Regions from separate parts of the Homo sapiens genome. Here region 2 is linked to region 1. The links come from fine-mapping of genetic effects on gene expression. Tissue or cell type: skeletal muscle. Region 1 holds a variant in brackets; the other region holds the start of a gene. All regions are shown on one strand. Distances are between the middles of the regions.

Region 1 (8,000 bases):
TAGGATAAATAGATTTCTGAGGGTCCTGAACTTTATTTCCTGAATTAAGTTGCCTCTACTATGACAATTGCTCTAATTTGTTCCTCGTGGTTTCTCTGCACATGAAAGCACATTGAGGTTTGACCACCTCGCGTGAGATATGGTGTCCAGAATTGCTCATAGCAAGTGAGAGCTGGCTCTAACTTGTTCTGCCCTCAGCTCCTGTATTTGACTGCTTTTGTAACCTAGGAATAGTCTGACAAGCCATCTTTATATGTTTTTTATTCCCATGTGCTTTAAATGACTGCCATCATTCATCTAAATCCTTTTGTTACCACTGGTGATAATAATACCTAAGCATCCCTTTATATGTTTCAAATGGGAAATTATTTAGCTGTGTTTAAAAAAAGATAGGGCTCTTTCTGGGTCCTTTATTATCCTTCTTTGTTTGGGAACAACTAACTTTAGTAATACTTTGTATAAAATGGGAAGAACAGTGCTATAATACCAATTCGTTGCTATCCTTGCTATTGCTAAGAGCTTCTAGTCAGCTTTTCAGAATATTTAAAATTATCTAGAAAATTTGGTCCTTACCAAGCTTCTCTGCTATGGAGAAAAAATGGCCAAAGGAAAACTAAGGATAGCTGAAAAGGTTTATAGGGTGGTAGTCTTTCTTTTTCATGATTAAGATGAGGAAACTTAAGGCCCAGCCAAAGGAAAATGAGTGGTCGTTCGGCTAATGAGTGGCTGAATCAAAAGCTAGAACCTGGCCCATACTTCCAGTCCAGTGACCTTTCCACCATGCTACAGTGAGTTCTTTATCTGTAAATGGAATGTTAAAAATATATTTTAAAGACTGGTGCTGTGTTTATAGTAATTATTCTAACTCAACTGACATTACAGTATGGTTTAATAAAGACAGAATTTTGACATTTGCATCCAGTAAGAAGGAAAAAAAAAGTGGCTGGGCGCAGTGGCTTACGCCTGTAATCCCAGCACTTTGGGAGCCCAAGGTGGGTGGATCACGAGGTCTGGAGATCGAGACCATCCTGGCCAACATGGTGAAACCCTGTCTCTACTAAAAATACAAAAATTAGCTGGGCGTGGTGGCGAGTGCCTGTAATCCCAGCTACTTGGGAGGCTGAGGCAGGAGGACAGCTTGAACCAGGGAGTTGGAGGTTGCAGTGAGCCAAGATTGCGCCACCACAGTCCAGCCTGGTGACAGAGTGAGACTCCATCTAAAAAAAAAAAAAACAGTTATATATCACCCCCGAAGTGTTAGCTTCATCTATTGAACCAAAAAGGTGAAGGAATATAAGATTCCTAAATTATATTGCTCTGAGATTAAAAAACTGAGGCAGTATTCGTATAGTATATCAAGATAACAATAATTTGGCCAGCAAAATGTCCATAGCCTAAAAGCACTAGGACTTAGGAAGATAGAATGTAATACAGGAGGACAGAGTTCATGACTTAATAGCAATTGCAGATACAGAAACAAACTCGTCTCACCATACCTACCACATTAACCTGGCCAGTGTCATGCAGATAGCACTTTGCTTAATTATGGCTGAGGTAATAAGACAAGTTGCTGGGTGGATGAAAAACAGTTTTGTACTGATTCAAGATTAGGGTATTACCACTAAAAAAAAGTATTCAAAACCTAAACAGTAGAATATTGCATTGGTAATATTTGTAGATAACACCTGACTTGATTGAAACAATGGAGTACACAGACCCAAGGATGCTTCTTCAGCAGCTATAGGCTGCACCAGGAAAACAAAACACTTCCATGCATATGACATCTACTGTGGGCTGGTTAGCACAGAAGGGCATAACATGGTATTGATGAGGCCTAAAATACTATACACATGAGCCTCAGTGAGAGTTTTGGTCTGTGATATTGCACAGTTCTCTTATGATTGTATCTATGCAGGTGTGTGTCTGATAACGTGTGTATGTGTGCGTATCAAGAACAACTTCCAGATGTTTGGGGTAAGACCAACAACTCTGACCAACAGATCAATTATAGTGCTATAGGTAACGTGTAGTAACAGTGGAACTTATTATCTAGCCCTTTCCTTAGCAAAATAAAAAATAATTATATATATATGAACTGATGCAGAGCAAGTAAGTTCTGGAAGAGATCTGAAGAAAACGTGGCACTGTGAGACTGAACTCAAGCCAGTTACTACATTCAATAAAGGTATTCCAGTGTGCTAGCTTGAGTCATTCATAGATTCAAACATTTTTAGAGCAAAAACCTCTTCTAGTGCTATTTATTGTACAGGGAAGACATGTGAGAGCCAAAGAGGTAGGGTGACTCCTCTACTGGCACAGAGGGTTCCCTTTTCAGTCCAGAGGCCAGGTCTCTTGGCCCCATTCAGCACTCCTCCTTTAGGCCATTCGACCTCTCCTTGAGGCTGTGTCTGAGAGAGACCTTTCCTGCATGTTCCAACCCACTTCTGAATGTTCACAGCAATAGGTAGTGTAGAGGCTAAAAATACAAATTGTGAGGACAGACCATGTAAGGTTAGAGCCTGGCTCTGTCACCGACTTTCTGTGTGGAGATGGACAGATTAAACTTCCCATGCCTCAGTTTCCTCTTCTGTGAATTGAGCATAATTATATTGCTTATCTCATAGGGCTCTTGTGAGGATCAAATTGAGTTAATACATATAAAGTGCTTAGAATAGTGCTTGGCACATAGTAGATGCTCAGTAAAGGTCAGCTATTATTATTTGTACCATTAACTTTGTGCCTGTCATGCACTGACTTCCAAAGGAGCGTGTTTAAGCATGTCTTCCTCACTCAAGGGAATTGTCACTTTGTTTCTTAATCATGCTTGTTTTTGTTCCCATGACATCTTGCACTATTTTCTGGTCATTACAGATGGTCAATAAATGCTTCATGTTTCACACATTAATTCAAGAAAACACTTTTAGACACTTTTGTTTGCAAGGAGTTTTCTCTCTTAATAATATCATAGTGCATGAGGCCAGTATTGACAAGACTGACTTCCAACTAGATTCTTCTGTACTCCAAAATAGAAAAAAAAAGCTTCGACTCATAAACAGTTACTGTCTTCTATATATGTTTATTAATAATTCATTGGGCAATTATTTGCAGAAGTCATGGGAGAATAAAATTGAGTTGTTCTAAGGTCTGAGAATATTCCAGAATAAAGACAAGGACTTTAGTTTGTTTTGCTCACTACTGAATCTCCCACACCTAGATGGTGCCTGGCACCAGTGCTTAGAGACTCTTTAAATCCTTTCAAATGAATGAATGGCAAAACACTTGAAATAGTAAAGCTAGGCCCAGAGCCCCTTCGGTCTGAGCACACAGAGTGTAGTGCAGCAGCATGCCAGAATATGTCCTGCTGTGCACCAGCCAACAGAATTTGAATTGTATTCTCCATGTTGGGGGTCTGTTCGTGTTTGCAAATTATGTTAAAAGTAAAGGAATACTTTTTTCTTAAATGATTTGTAGTCCATGGTTTCCTTTCTGTGTTTGGTCATCAAAATCTCTAGCACTGACACGGCACTCAGTAGTTTCATTAGCACATTCTAATCCCTTGGTCCTCAAATCATCCCTCGGAGGTGGGTAGCAAACATTCTCTTAATATCCCATTTTCCATGGGGGTCAAAGTGCGGTGCTTACGCCTACATAGCTAGGAGGTAGCAGAACTGGATCTTCTGTTTTCAGCTTCCTGCCCTTCCTACCATATCCGATTGCTTTGACACTGCAGTGTTCTTTCCTTCCTGCAAGGGAACAT[G/A]TAAGATAATCTAGCAGAAGCTATCCGGCTGGTCACAGACTTTTGGGTATTCAGCCATCTGGCCCACAGGCAGGCTTTATTTGGCCCTCACAATACTCATCCACAATTGGTTTAAATTTACTTTGAGGGATTGGTCAACATTTTTAAAAACCTAGTGATTTCTCATCAAAATCCTGGGTCTGCACGTTTTCTCTGGAAGCGTCCGCCAGATCTTGGTCATGCCTGGCCTTTTGGGACATGATGTGTGCTTCTCTGCCTGCTGTATCCATACGGCTCCCACTTCTTTCCTCAGCACTGAAGCTGAAGGTCAGTTTTATGCCATTTTATTTTTCACAAAATAGAATTAAGAGGAAATGGAAATGTTTCTTTTATTTATTTATGTATTTATTTATTTAGAGATGGAGTCCTTCTCTGTCGCCCAGGCTGGAGTACAGTGTCACAATCTTGGTTCACTGCAACCTCTGCCCCCAAGATTCCAGCAAGTCTCCTGCCTCAGCCTCCTGAGTAGCTGGGATCACAGGAGCCCACCACCACGCCCAGCTAATTTTTGTATTTTTAGTAGAGATGGGGTTTCACCATATTGGCCAGGCAGATCTCGAACTCCTGACCGCCTTCTCGGCCTCCCAAAGTGCTGGGATTACAGGCGTGAACCACCACACCCAGCCAGAAATATTTCTTATTCTTACTTGGGAAATAAGAAATCAAGAGGGCTGGCATTTTTTATGAGCATATTTCTTTGTAGACGTGGAGAAGGTTACCATAGGTTTAAAGTACAAAACTTGCCTATGTTAAAATCCCACTGTGAAACAGACCTGGTCCATTTGGTCATTTATGTTTCTTGTCTGGCTTGGGGAGACCTTCGAATTGGTAACATTTGAGCAGATCTATCATTCATATTGTTTCCAATTTTAAATCATAGCCTACAACTTCTACTTCCCAAAAGAGAAGCAATCATCATCATCATATTTTGCAATTGTTATTTTTGTTATTGAAATTATTTTGGATTAGTTTGAAATAGGCTCTCTATATAATTAAATGTAAAAGTGGATGGCTAACACTGGTTGGAGTTTTTCCTGCATTATCTTCTGGAGCTGTGAGAAAGATCATGTGAAATAACAAAATGCACTAGCCTAAGTTCTCGTCCACACTTTGCTTCTAATTTTAGGTTTTGGACAAGTCACTGAACTTCTTGGGGCTTCAGTTCCCCATAGGAAAAATGAGGAGATTGGATTTTATTGGATTTGATTTAAACTATGCTACTCTACCTGGCGCCTGGGAAGTCCTAAGCACATTTTAGCTGAACAAGTGAGCTCACACATGCAACTTGAATGCCGGGTTGCTGCCAGCGTATGGAGAATTGATCTTTCTCAGTAACTTAGAGAGCTGGGATAGTAACATTTTGTTTTTTGGTATGTGTGCATATATGTGATTCCATAAGCAAAAGAGGTAAATTCCCTGGCTCCAGGTCTCATGACAGAATTTCTCTCATCCCCAGTACCGAAGCTCTTGTAACTCAATCTCCGTCTCTTGTCTGCCTGCCAGTCTGACTCTGTTCTTTATCACTCATTTATGCGTTTCATCCCTTTTCAGACTGATATTTATGGACTGGCAAAGAAGTGTAACTTGACGGAGCGCCAGGTGGAAAGATGGTTTAGGAGTCGGCGGAATCAAGAGAGGCCTTCCAGGCTGAAGAAATTCCAGGAAGCTTGGTAAGGAGGATGGGCCAAGCTTTAGGAATGCTGCCGTCCTATCTGGAGCTGAGTGGTCCTTGCAGAGAGAATACTGCCGGAGCAGCAGAGGGAGGGTTCAGACCCAGCTCTGTCACCCACTGATGTGGTGTTTTAGGCTCCTCACATATTTGCCTTCTCTGCTTCCTCCACTCCTTTATAAATCAAGTAAGCTCTGAACTCTATTTATCGGGCCTCCCGAACCAGAATAGATTCAGACAGACTCCCACACTATGAACTCTCTAAGATGAACAGGAGATGTTATGTACTCAGCCTGAAACCCAGAAAAAATCATAAAAATGTCTTAACTGGTGTTTCTCTTTTCTTAGGGTCAGGGTTGGCCCTAAGTCACCAGACTTTATCACCTGTATCCAACCATCACAACTGTAAGAGCAGAGAATGTCTGCAAGGACGTGTGTTCCCTCTCAGAACACTGAGAAGGCCTCTCTGTGTGGCGTGGCTCATGACCCCAGCCCTCCTGTAGGGTGCACAGCCCATCCTCTTGGTTTCCCAGGATTTTTAGTAGAGGTGGTCAGGAGATCAAGACCATGGTGAGACCCCATCTCTACTAAAAATACAAAAAATTAGCTGGGCGTGGTGGCGGGCGCCTGTAGTCCCAGCTACTCGGGAGGCTGAGGCAGGAGAATGGCGTGAACCTGGGAGGCGGAGCTTGCAGTGAGCCGAGATCCCGCCACTGCACTCCAGCCTGGGTGACAGAGCAAGACTCTGTCTCAAAAAAAAAAATAATAATAATAATTATTATTATTATTGATCCTTCTGCCAATGATGTGAGACAGTCAGGGAAGTTGGGGCTATCCTGTTTCAATGAGAAACTGCACATCCATCTAGTTTAAGGGTCTCTTAGGTGTTTGAATGGCTGTTGCATTCAGATCTTCTGACTCCTATTCCGATACTATTTCTTGTTGTATCATACTGCCCCTGGCACCTAATGCTTACCTCCCAGCAAGCAGAGGATCCTTAAATTGAGTAATATTTGGGCATCTGGCCATGTCAGTAAGCCTACTAAAATTCTTCCAGAGTTCAGGCTGGAGAAGGGAATTTTGAGTTACCCTTATCAATCAGTCAGGCAATGCAGAGGTACAGGTTAGTATCTTTTCTGTGCATAGCACTGTCCTAGATTTTGTGGCGTTCTAGATTTTAAGAAGGGGGTAACATGTGAGTCGTGGTTACCGGCCTTAAACAGTGAATTAGGGAGGCCAGATTATCACACACGAAACCACAACATCTATTGTCGCGCCACCCCAGTGGCACATGGGAGTGTACACCAGCAGATACAACATCATGTTTAGATGTGTCGTGGGAATTTAGAGGTGATGGCATCAGCATGGCTGAAGTAGTTAAAGAAAGGCTTTCTAGAGAAGGGAAGACATAGGTTGGACCTTGAAGAATGGGTCAGGTTGCCAAAAGAAAAGAAAGCAGGTTTGAGGCAGTATTTTCAAGTAAAGCAAAGACACAAAGCAGGAAATTATGCAATATATTCAGGACACAGTAAGTGGGCCCATGAATAAAATTTAAGCCTTATCTTATTCTTTAGCAATGTCACATGTTTATTCTAAGTTAAAAGTTATTATGGACTAGATAAACAGACTAAACCTAGTGCCATGTTGAATTGTACAGGGACTCTGCTTTTTAAAAATCAGCTGTGGGATGTGCTACAGAAATCACAGCATGAGTTACCTAACCTCAAGCCTTTTGAAAATCTCCGGGCGCTTATTTCTTAACCCCAGCTCCTAAAATTACTTTCCAACAGGCAAAAATTCCTTTGTAACATCCAGAGGGATGAGCCCCCAGGCACGTTGGGTTCAGTGTGTTTGTTCCTTGGTGACTTTCTCTCATGGTGACCCTTGTGCTCTATTCCACAGCATTCAGGATTTTAATACATAATGGGCCCTTTTTTTTAAAAAAAAAAAATCAAATTCCACATTAGCTGACCACTTTTTCATTTTAAAATACAGATTTCCACCTAGCAATAAGAAGGAACACCAAGTCCTTAGGTATCCAGGTAGGAGAACTCCTCAGTGTTGGAGAAAGGGCTCTCCCCGGCTGGGTGGATGCGGCCTTACCCTCATCTGATCCATGCAGTCCACGGCCCACTCTATGCAGCGTCCCCACCACAGGCCTCCCATCTGGCCCCAGCAGTGTCTCTCACCACTCTGCCCATTCCTCCCTGGCTGCACCCTGCAGTCCCTCCTTTCACTATCACCATTGTTACCCAACCAATTCGTTTCTGAATGGCTTTTCAGTGGGTTTTCTCTCCCCCCACGTTTATGTTTATCTCATTCTTTCCTGGAAAAAAATAAAAGAAGTTTTACTCTTAGGTGAAACTAGTGAAATGACATTGACAAGGATATTATCATTCATCTTTTCAGTGAAGTGCAGCAATTCTCCAACTTTTTGGTGTCAAGACCCCTTGGTCTCTGAAAAACTCTTGGAAATGCCAAAGAGCATTTGTGTGTGTTATACCTATTGGTATTTACTGTATTCGAAGTGAAAAC
Region 2 (11,262 bases), 110 kb after region 1:
CCCAGGCTGGAGCGTGGTGGCACAATCTTGGCTCACTGTAACCTCTGCCTCCCGAGTTCAAGCAATTCTCCCACCTCAGCCTCCCGAGTAGCTGGGACTACAGGTACCTGCCACCACGCCCAGCTAATTTTTGTATTTTTAGTAGAGAGGGGGTTTCACTGTGTTGGCCAGGCTAGTCTTGAACTCCAGACCTCATGATCCACCCGCCTCAGCCTCCCCAGAGGTTTTGTATTTGTGAACATATGCCCTCAAAACATAACTAATACGTATTAATATTTCCTGTGTGTGCATTTAGTGTGGCTTATGCTCAGCTCTCACAAATTTCTTTTTTCTTTTTCTTTTCTCGGCTCACTGCAACCTCCGCCTACTGGGTTCAAGCAATTCTCCTGCCTCAGCCTCCCAAGTAGCTGAGATTACAGGCTCACACCACCATGCCCAGCTAATTTTTTGTATTTTTAGTAGAGATGGGGTCTCACCCTGTTGGCCAGCCTGGTCTCAAATTCCTGACCTGAGGTCATCTGCCTGCCTCGGCCTCCCGAAGTGCTGGGATTACAGGTGTGAGCCACTGTGCCCAGCCATGTTTTAAATTTTTAAGAGCCCTTTTCATTGTTTGAATTTTTTATGGTAAATTATTCTTCTTTAATGGATGTAATATCTTCTCATATCTTTAAGACTAATAGAATTTTTTTTTGAAGTTTTCTTCAAAACATTTCTGCACACTAGGTTTCCTTCAGTTGCATTTTTTTTTTTTCTTTTCTTGAGACCGAGTCTTGCTCTGTCGCTCGGTCTGGAGTACGGTGGCGCGATCTCAGCTCACTGCAGGCTCTGCCTCCCAGGTTCCAGCGATTCTCCTGCCTCAGCCTCCTGAGTAGCTGGGATTACAGGCGCACACCACCACGCCTGGCTAATTTTTGTATTTTCCACAGAGACAGGCTTTTGCCATGTTGCCCAGGCTGGTCTTGAATTTCTGGCGTCAAGCTATCTGCCCACCTCAGCCTCCCAAAGTGTTGAGATTCCTGGCATGAGCCACCGTGCCTGGCCAGAAAATTTCTTAAAAGTGTGTGGAACCCTTCCAAGCTGTTGACACCTGGGAGTTTGATCCTTGGACTTGTTTGATTTTCACAGAAAGATGTTCAGGAAAATAAGCAAGATGAAAATGATCTCAATGATGCCTGAATGGTTCATTGACTGAAACATCAAAGGTTGAGGTCACCCAATCAAGTCACGGGTGTAACTACCAAGTTTGTTCAGACACAGGGAAAATGACAGCACAGGACAGTTTGTGGACAATGATGTTAAGATGCACCCCAACCTCAGAGATGCTAAAATGAGAAAAAAAAAGAAATGCATCTTAGAATCTATGAAATAGGCCAGGCGCAGTGGCTCATGCCTATAATCCCAGCACTTTGGGAGGCCAAGGTGGGTGGATGGCTTGAGCTCAGGAGCTCGAGACTAGTCTGGGCAATATGGTGTAACCCCACCTCTACCAAAAATACAAAAAAAAAAAAAATAGCTGGGCATGGGGGCACATGCCTGTAGTCCCAGCTACTCAGGAGGCTGAGACTGGAGGATCGCTTGAGCCTGGGAGACAGAAGTTGCTGTGAACCTTAGCCTCTACTCACACCAGAGACAAAAATTAATTTGAAATGGATCATAGAATGAGTTCATGTCCTTTGTAGGGACATGGATGAAGCTGGAAACCATCATTCTCAGCAAACTATCGCAAGGACAAAAAACCAAACATCGCTTGTTCTCACTCATAGGTGGGAATTGAACAATGAGAACACTTGGACACAGGAAGGGGGACATCACACACCGGGGCCTGTTGTGGGGTGGGGGGAGGGGGGAGGGATAGCATTAGGAGATATACCTAATGTAAATGATGAGTTAATGGGTGCAGCACACCAACATGGCACATGTATACATATGTAACAAACCTGCAAGTTGTGCACATGTACCCTAGAACTTAAAGTATAATAAAATAAAAATTAAAAAAAAAGTATTACAACCTTGTACAGAACAGAAAAAAAAAAAGAAATGGATCATAGACCTGAATGTAAAAGCTAAAACAATAAAACTACAATAAAACATAAGAACATATGTTTGAGACTTTGATGTAGATAAAGATTTTTTAGATTGGATGCAAAAAGCACTAACTATGAAGTAAAATGTTAAATTAACAAGTCTCTGCTCATCAAACGGCATCATTATAATAGCCAAACACTGAATATATTTTCAAATGTCCATCAAGGAGAACTGATAAATAAATCAAAGTATATTTATACAATGGAATCTACTCTGTAATATAAAAGAATAAACAAGTGATACATACTGCAACATGGATGAATCTCCAAAATATCATGTTGGCTAAAAGATGTCAGAGACGATACCTATTGCATGGAATAATTTGTACAATGTCCAAACACAGGCAAAAATAATCTTAGATTATAGCAATTAGAAAGTGGTTTTTTTTGAGATGGGGAGAATTGACTGGGAAATTATGAAACTTTTTAAGTGATAGAAATGTTCTGTGTCTTATTTGGAGTTGTGGTTACCTGAGTGAATACCACTCTCAAAATGTTCAAATGAACACTTAAGATGTGTTCATTTTACTGCTTGTAATTATACCCCAATCAAATTATCCTGAATTCTCAGCAAACTAGGAAGAAAGGAGAACTTCTTTAACTTGATAAAGGACATCCAAAAAAAAAAATCCTGCAGGTAAAATTATACTCAATGGTGAGAAATTAGAAGTTCTCCTGCTAAGATCAGGAAAAAGTCAAGGATGTCCCCTCTCACAACTGCTATTTAACATAATACTGGAAGTCCTAGCTTATGAAATAAGACAAGAAAAGGAAATAAAAGATAATTGAATTGGGAAGAAAGAAAGAAACTGTCTTTGCGCTCAGATGACATGATCATCTATGGAGAAAATCAGAAAGAATTGACAAAAAAAAGCCTATAAGAAGTGATTATAGCAAGTTTACAGTATATAAGGTTAATATACAAAAGTCTATCACTTTCTTATATACCAGTAATGAACAAGTGGAATTTGACATTAAAAACATGTACCATTTAGCACCCCCACACAATGAAATACTTAGGTTTAAGTCTAACAAAATACGTATAAGATCTGTATGAGGAAAAGTACAAAACTCTGATGAAATAAATCAAAGTACTAAATATACGGAGCGATATTCCATGTTCACAGATAGGAAGATGCATTATTGTCAAGATGTCAGTTCTTCTCAACTCAATCTACAGACTCAACGCAATCCCAATCAAAATCTCAGCAAGTTATTTTGTGGATATTGACAAACTGATTCTAAAGTTTATATGGGAAGCAAAAGACCCACAGTAGCCATAAAAATACTGAAGGAGAACAAAGTCAGATGATTGACACTACCCAGTCTCAAGACTTACTATAAAGGTACAATACTCAAGACAGTGTGGTATTGGTAAAATAGACAAACAGATTAATGGAATAGTACAGAGCCCAGAAACAGACCCACACTAACATAGTCAACTTATCTTTGACAAACGAGCAAAGGCAATACAATGGCGAAAAGACAGTTTTTCTTCAACAAATAGTGCTGGGACAACTAGATATCCACAAGCAAAATAGTGAGTCTACACACAGACCTTACACCCTTCACAAAAATTAACTCAAAATTAATCATAGACCTAATCGTAAAACGCAAAAATATAAAACTCCTAGCAGATAACATAAGAGAAGGTCTAGATAACCTTGGGTTTGAAGATGACTTTTTGGATACAACACCCAAGATACAATCCATCAAAGAAATAATTGATAAGCTGGACTTTTAAAAACTTCTACTCTGAGAAAGACACTGTCAAGAAAATCAGAAGACAAGCTACAGACTGGGAGAAAATGTTTGTAAAAGATATATCTGATAAAGGACTGTTATCCAATATATAGAAAGAACTCTTAAAACTCAACAAGAGGCCAGGAGCAATGGCTCACACCTATAATCCCAGCACTTTGGGAGGCCGAGGCAAGTGGATTGCTTGAGTCCAGGAGTTTGCGACCAGTCTGGGCAACATGGCAAATCCGCATCTCTACAAAAAATGAGGCAGGCATGGTGGCACGTGCCTGTAGTCTCAGGAGGCTGAGGTGGGAGGATCATCTGAGTCCAGGAGGTCGAGGGTACAGTGAACCACGATCGTGCCACTGCACTCCAGCCTGGGTGACAGAATGAAATCCTGTCTCAAAATTCTTTACTGCCTCCATAGTTTTGCCTTTTCCAGAATCTCCTATAGTTGGAATCATACAGCATGTAGTTTTCAGATTGGCTTCTGTTATTTAATAATATACACTTAAGGTTCCTCATGTCTTTTCATGGCTTGATCCTCATTTCTTTTTAGGTGCTAATAAAGGAATTAGGGGGGTGGTAAGGATGGGTCAGCTCCTTTCCCCATCCAGCGAAGAAACCCTGCTAGGGTGAGAAAATAGATGGGAAGTTGAACGATGGGATGGGTGTCTTTTGGTCCCTGATTCTATTAAATGGGCCATGACAACCATCTCATTATACCTATCTCTTAGAATTAAGAAAAAAAAACAATCGGGAGCAATTCAACAAATCAAGTCAAATTATGGGCTTCCGGCACAAGAGGGACATCCAAGAACAGAGTGACCAAATGTGGTCCTTCTGATGAGAGTGCTCAGGAAAATGCCTGGCTGGGGGTTACTGCAGAGAGTCTGTGGTCACCTGCAGGGGCTAGTCCAGCCTCTGCAGGCACCACGACTGCGCTGGTTTGGGCACCTCAGTGTAAAGCTCACGCAGCAGCCCAGGATTGGGTGGGGGAAGGAGGGAGAGAGGGAGAGAGAGGGAGGGAGGGAGAGAGAGGGAGGGAGGGAGAGACAGGGAGGGAGGGAGGGAAGGAGAAAGAGAGAGAGAATGAATCACCAGAGCAAACCGAAGAGTGAATGGGAGACAGAGGGTAAGGGTGAGCGAGGGCAGGAGAGGAGATCCAGTAGGTCTTTCTGGAGTGGCCAGAGGGTCCCCACTCTCCCGGCTCTTCTCGGCTCCACCCCGCCCCCACCCCACTGGGGTCCTCACCGCCCCTCCCCCCGCCTCCCGACGCCCCTCCTTCCCTGCTCGCCCCCACTCTTCTGCCAGGCTCCCCGGCCGCCCACTGCTCCCTCCCTCCCGCCGCCCCTCTTCCCTCGCGGCTCGGCGCGCGGAGGCCCCGTGTGTCCACCTGAAGGTCCCCGGGGTGCGTCTGGCCGCCCGTCGGACCTTCGCTTTGGGGACTGCGTTTTATCCACGATAAACCATTTCCCGAGAAAGGGGTGAGCTCTGCTGCTGCCTCCGCGAGAGCAGGCGCCGGTTCAAGTCCTGCCGCCCCCGCCCAGCCCTGCACCCGTCCAGGCCACCCCGACAGCCGCGGCCTCGGCCGTGGGCAGGACGGGAAGGCTGCGAGGCCGGGCGGAGAGGCGCCCTGAGGCCGGAGCGCGTGAGGACGACCTTCCCTCGCTGGAGACGCCGCCGCCGCCGCGCCTGGCCGGGCTGCACCGGGGTCTGGGCGGAGGGCGCGGGCGCGCGGGGCCGCGAGGGGAAGAGCAGAAGCGGAGGCGAAGGCGAGGGGCGCCGCGCACCTGTCCCGGGCTGCACGGAAGCGGCTTCCAGTGGGGACTGGCGGTCCCTCCCGGCCTTCAGGGCCTACTCGCGGCTCTGAAACCCCAGTGCCAGGCGCCTGTCCTGGCCCACGCTTCGTCCACCTCCCGCGGGAAACCCCTCGCAGCGGGGGTCGGAGGGGTGCCCTGGGAGAGATGAGGGGGAGAAGCATGAGACCAGGTCCTAGGGGGAAAAAGAGAAACAAAAGGTCTGATTCCCTCCCTCCTCGCACCCCCTCCGTCTGTTTCTGGCATCAACTTCTTGCCAGGGGCTCCAGGGAAGGGGAATTTGATAACCACGTAACTTCACCCTCAGATGGCACAGGCCAAGGCCTTTCTGCGGAGCGGAGCTGCCGGTGATTTCCAGAATGCACTCACCTTTCTCCTCTCTTCGCTGTCTCTCTCTTTCCGTCCCTCATTCCCTTCTTCACTTCCTTCCCTTCTTCCCGCCCTCTGTTTTCTCTCCCTTCCTCCCTCCACCTTCCACCCCCCAACCCCTCCCCAAGATCTGAGTTGCACAGATCTGATGTAATCACACCCTGCACGGTGCCAGCAGAGAGCCATGCCAAGCTCTGATTTTGTTCTCTACTATTATTTTCCTCTTAATCCCCACTGCTCGTACTCAGAGTGGACAATTTGAGAATACAACATATGTACACACCAACGTTTCTACAGATGTGTACGTCCATGAAATCATCACCGCAATCAACATAGTGAACACATTCACCACCTCCAAACATCTCCTCCAGTCCCTTTATAATTTATTCCCCATGTACCTCTCTGCACTCCCCCTTCTCCAGGCAACCACTGATTTGTCAACACATTCATTTGTGTTTTCTAAAATTTTATGTAAATGGAATAATATACTATGTGCTCTTTTTTAAAAAAACAATTTCAACTTTTATTTTAGATTAAAGGGTACATGTGCAGGTTTGTTTCATGAGTATATTGCAGGGTGCTGAAGGTTGGGGTACAGATGATCCAGTCACCCAGGTAGTGAGTAGTAGTTTTTCAGCCCACGTTCTGTTCCACTCCCTCCCTGCCTCCCTCCCTCCCTAGTCGTCCCCAGTGTCTGCTGCTCCCATCTTTATGTCTATGTGTATTCAATGTTTAGGTCCCACTTATAAGTGAGAACATGCGTTATTTGGTTTCCCATTCTTGGGTTAATTCCTTAGGACAATGGCTGCCATCCATGTTGCTGCGAAGGACATGACCACAATGAGATAACGTCTCACACCGGTCAGAATGGCGATTATGAAAAAGTCAATAAACAACCAATGCTTGTGAGGCTGCGGGGAAGAGGGAACCCTTATACACTTGCTGGGAATAAAAACTAGTTCAGCCACTGTGGAAGGCAGTTTGGAGATTTCTGAAAGCACTTAGAACTGCTATTCGACCCAGCAATCCATTACTAGGTATATACCCAAAGGCAAGTAAGTCATTTTATCAAAAAGGCACGTGCACCCATATGTTCATCAAAGCGTTGTTTACAATAGCAAAGACATGGAATCAACCTAGATGCCCATCAGCAGTGGATTGGATGAAGAAAATGTGGTACCTATACACCATGGAATGCTAAGCGGCCATAAAAAGGAACATCCGTTCTTTCCTTCAGTCTGGCTTCCCCTACTCAATAGTTATTCTGAGATTCATTTATATCGTTGCAGGTATACCTAGTTCATAATTGTTTATTCCATTGTATATTCTATATTCTACACTCTGCTTGTCTGTTTACCTGTTCAGCATTTGGATTGCTTGCATTTGGGGATATTACAAATAAAACTGTCATGATCATTCATTTACAAGTCTTTGTATAGGTATATGCTGGGTAGGTGGATGTTTAACTCTTTAAGAAGCTGCCAAAATGTGGTTGTACCATTTTATGTTCTCACCAGTAATGTACAAAAAGTTCCAATTCCTTCACATCCTCACCAACACTTAGTGTGGTTAGTTTATTGGAGTTTTAAATTTGCACTTCCCTAAAGACTAGTTAATGATATTGAGCACCTGTCAAAATTTATTTTCCATCTATATATCTTTTTCTTTCTTTATTTATTTTTATTTATTTATTTATTTTTTATTATTATACTTTAAGTTTTAGGGTACATGTGCACAATGTGCCGGTTAGTTACATATGTATACATGTGCCATGCTGGTGTGCTGCACCCATTAACTTCTCATTTAGCATTAGGTATATCTCCTAATGCTATCCCTCCCCCCTCCCCCCACCCCAAAACAGTCCCCAGAGTGTGATATTCCCCTTCCTGTGTCCATGTGTTCTCATTGTTCAATTCCCACCTATGAGTGAGAACATGTGGTGTTTGGTTTTTTTGTCCTTGGTGATAGTTTACTGAGAATGATGATTTCCAATTTCATCCATGTCCCTACAAAGGACATGTACTCATCATTTTTTATGGCTGCATAGTATTCCATGGTGTCTATGTGCCACATTTTCTTAATCCAGTCTATCATTGTGGGACATCTGGGTTGGTTCCAAGTCTTTGCTATTGTGAATAGTGCTGCAATAAACATACATGTGCATGTGTCTTTATAGCAGCATGATTTATAGTCCTTTGGGTATATACCCAGTAATAGGATGGCTGGGTCAAATGGTATTTCTAGTTCTAGATCCCTGAGGAATCGCCACACTGACTTCCACAATCGTTGAACTAGTTTACAGTCCCACCAACAGTGTAAAAGTGTTCCTATTTCTCCACATCCTCTCCAGCACCTGTTGTTTCCTGACTTTTTAATGATCGCCATTCTAACTGGTGTGAGATGGTATCTCATTGTGGTTTTGATTTGCATTTCTCTGATGGCCAGTGATGGTGAGCATTTTTTCATGTGTCTTTTGGCTGCATAAATGTCTTCTTTTGAGAAGTGTCTGTTCATGTCCTTCACCCACTTTTTGATGGGGTTGTTTGTTTGTTTCTTGTAAATTTGTTTGAGTTCATTGTAGATTCTGGATATTAGCCCTTTGTCAGATGAGTAGGTTGCGAAAATTTTCTCCCATTTTGTAGGTTGCCTGTTCACTCTGATGGTAGTTTCTTTTGCTGTGCAGAAGCTCTTTAGTTTAATTCGATCCCATTTGTCAATTCTGGCTTTTGTTGCCATTGCTTTTGGTGTTTTAGACATGAAGTCCTTGCCCATGCCTATGTCCTGAATGGTAATGCCTAGGTTTTCTTCTAGGGTTTTTATGGTTTTAGGTCTAACGTTTAAGTCTTTAATCCATCTTGAATTGATTTTTGTATAAGGTGTAAAGAAGGGATCCAGTTTCAGCTTTCTACATATGGCTAGCCAGTTTTCCCAACACTATTTATTAAATAGGGAATCCTTTCCCCATTGCTTGTTTTTCTCAGGTTTGTCAAAGATCAGATAGTTGTAGATATGCGGCATTATTTCTGAGGACTCTGTTCTGTTCCATTGATCTATATCTCTGTTTTGGTACCAGCACCATGCTGTTTTGGTTGCTGTAGCCTTGTAGTATAGTTTGAAGTCACGTAGCATGATGCCTCCAGCTTTGTTCTTTTGGCTTAGGATTGACTTGGCGATGTGGGCTCTCTTTTGGTTCCATATGAACTTTAAAGTAGTTTTTTCCAGTTCTGTGAAGAAAGTCATTGGTAGCTTGATGGAGATGGCACTGAATCTATAAATTACCTTGGGCAGTATGGCCATTTTCATGATATTGATTCTTCCTACCCATGAGCATGGAATGTTCTTCCATTTGTTGGTATCCTCTTTTATTTCATTGAGCAGTGGTTTGTAGTTCTCCTTGAAGAGGTCCTTCACGTCCCTTGTAAGTTGGATTCCTAGGTATTTTATTCTCTTTGAAGCAATTGTGAATGGGAGTTCACTCATGATTTGGCTCTCTGTTTGTCTGTTATTGGTGTATAAGAATGCTTGTGATTTTTGTACATTGATTTTGTATCCTGCGACTTTGCTGAATTGCTTATCAGCTTAAGGAGATTTTGGGCTGAGACGATGGGGTTTTCTAGATATACAATCATGTCATCTGCAAACAGGGACAATTTGATTTCCTCTTTTCCTGATTGAATACCCTTTATTTCCTTCTCCTGCCTAATTGCCCTAGCCAGAACTTCCAACACTATGTTGAATAGGAGTGGTGAGAGAGGGCATCCCTGTCTTGTGCCAGTTTTTGAAGGGAATGCTTCCAGTTTTTGCCCATTCAGTATGATATTGGCTGTGGGTTTGTCATAGATAGCTCTTATTATTTTGAAATACGTCCCATCAATACCTAATTTATTGAGAGTTTTTAGCATGAAGAGTTGTTGAATTTTGTCAAAGGCCTTTTCTGCATCTATTGAGATAATCATGTGGTTTTTGTCTTTGGTTCTGTTTATGTGCTGTATTAAATTTATTGATTTTCATATATTGAACCAGCCTTGCATCCCAGGGATGAAGCCCACTTGATCATGGTGGATAAGCTTTTTGATGTGCTGCTGGATTCGGTTTGCCAGTATTTTACTGAGCATTTTTGCATCAATGTTCATCAAGGATATTGGTCTAAAATTCTCTTTTTTGGTTGTGTCTCTGCCTGGCTTTGGTATCAGGATGATGCTGGCCTCATCAAATGAGTTAGGGAGGATTCCCTCTTTTTCTATTGATTGGAATAGTTTCAGAAGGAATGGTACCAGCTCCTCCTTGTACCTCTGGTAGAATTCGGCTGTGAATCCATCTGGTCCTGGACTCTTTGTGGTTGGTAAGCTATTAATTATTGCCTCAATTTCAGAGCCTGTTATTGGTCTATTGAGAGATTCAACTTCTTCCTGGTTTAGTCTTGGGAGGGTGTATGTGTTAAGGAATTTATCCATTTCTTCTAGATTTTCTAGTTTATTTGGGTAGAGGTATTTATAGTATTCTCTGATGGTAGTTTGTATTTCTGTGGGATCGCTGGTGATATCCCCTTTATCATTTTTTATTGCGTCTATTTGATTCTTGTCTCTTTTCTTCTTTATTAGTCTTGCTAGTGGTCTATCAATTTTGTTGATCCTTTCAAAAAACCAGCTCCTGGATTCATTAATTTTTTGAGGGGTTTTTTGTGACTCTATTTCCTTCAGTTCTGCTCTGATTTTAGTTATTTCTTGCCTTCTGCTAGCTTTTGAAATGTGTTTGCTCTTGCTTTTCTAGTTCTTTTAATTGTGATGTTAGGGTGTCAATTTTGGATCTTTCCTGCTTTCTCTTGTGGGCATTTAGTGCTATAAATTTCCCTCTACACACTGCTTTGAATGTGTCCCAGAGATTCTGGTATGTTGTGTCTTTGTTCTCGTTGGTTTCAAAGAACATCTTTATTTCTGCCTTCATTTCATTATGTACGCAGTAGTCATTCAGGAGCAGGTTGTTCAGTTTCCATGTAGTTGAGCAGTTTTAAGTGAGTTTCTTAATCCTGAGTTCTAGTTTGATTGCACTGTGGTCTGAGAGACAGTTTGTTATAATTTCTGTTCTTTTACATTTGATGAGGAGTGCTTTACTTCCAACTATGTGGTCAATTTTGGAATAGGTGTGGTGTGGTGCTGAAAAAAATGTATATTCTGTTGATTTGGGGTGGAGAGTTCTGTAGATGTCTATTAGGTCTGCTTGGTGCAGAGCTGAGTTCAATTCCTGGG

Alleles and levels. Alleles are on the strand shown, and positions count from the first base shown. SD is a standard deviation of normalised expression in the study named.
For the expression in skeletal muscle of the gene that starts at base 6,070 in region 2, allele G in region 1 goes with a higher level than allele A (large effect, 1.4 SD a copy in GTEx).

Evidence for each region. PIP is the estimated chance that this variant, and not a neighbour inherited with it, causes the effect.
Region 2: CERS3-AS1 starts here. The variant in region 1 is fine-mapped to the expression of CERS3-AS1 in skeletal muscle (GTEx, PIP above 0.99).

What each region holds. Positions count from the first base shown.
Region 1 is chr15:100,482,016-100,490,015 of GRCh38, reverse strand. CERS3 (ceramide synthase 3) reads left to right here. Exons shown (of 12, transcript NM_001378789.1): 5 at 5,348-5,466. Among named protein-coding and RNA genes, the nearest start is that of CERS3, 43 kb to the left of the region's middle. The variant G/A (reference allele first, on the strand shown) is at 3,758.
Region 2 is chr15:100,367,747-100,379,008 of GRCh38, reverse strand. CERS3-AS1 (CERS3 antisense RNA 1) reads right to left here and starts at 6,070. Exons shown (of 5, transcript NR_120374.1): 1 at 6,017-6,070.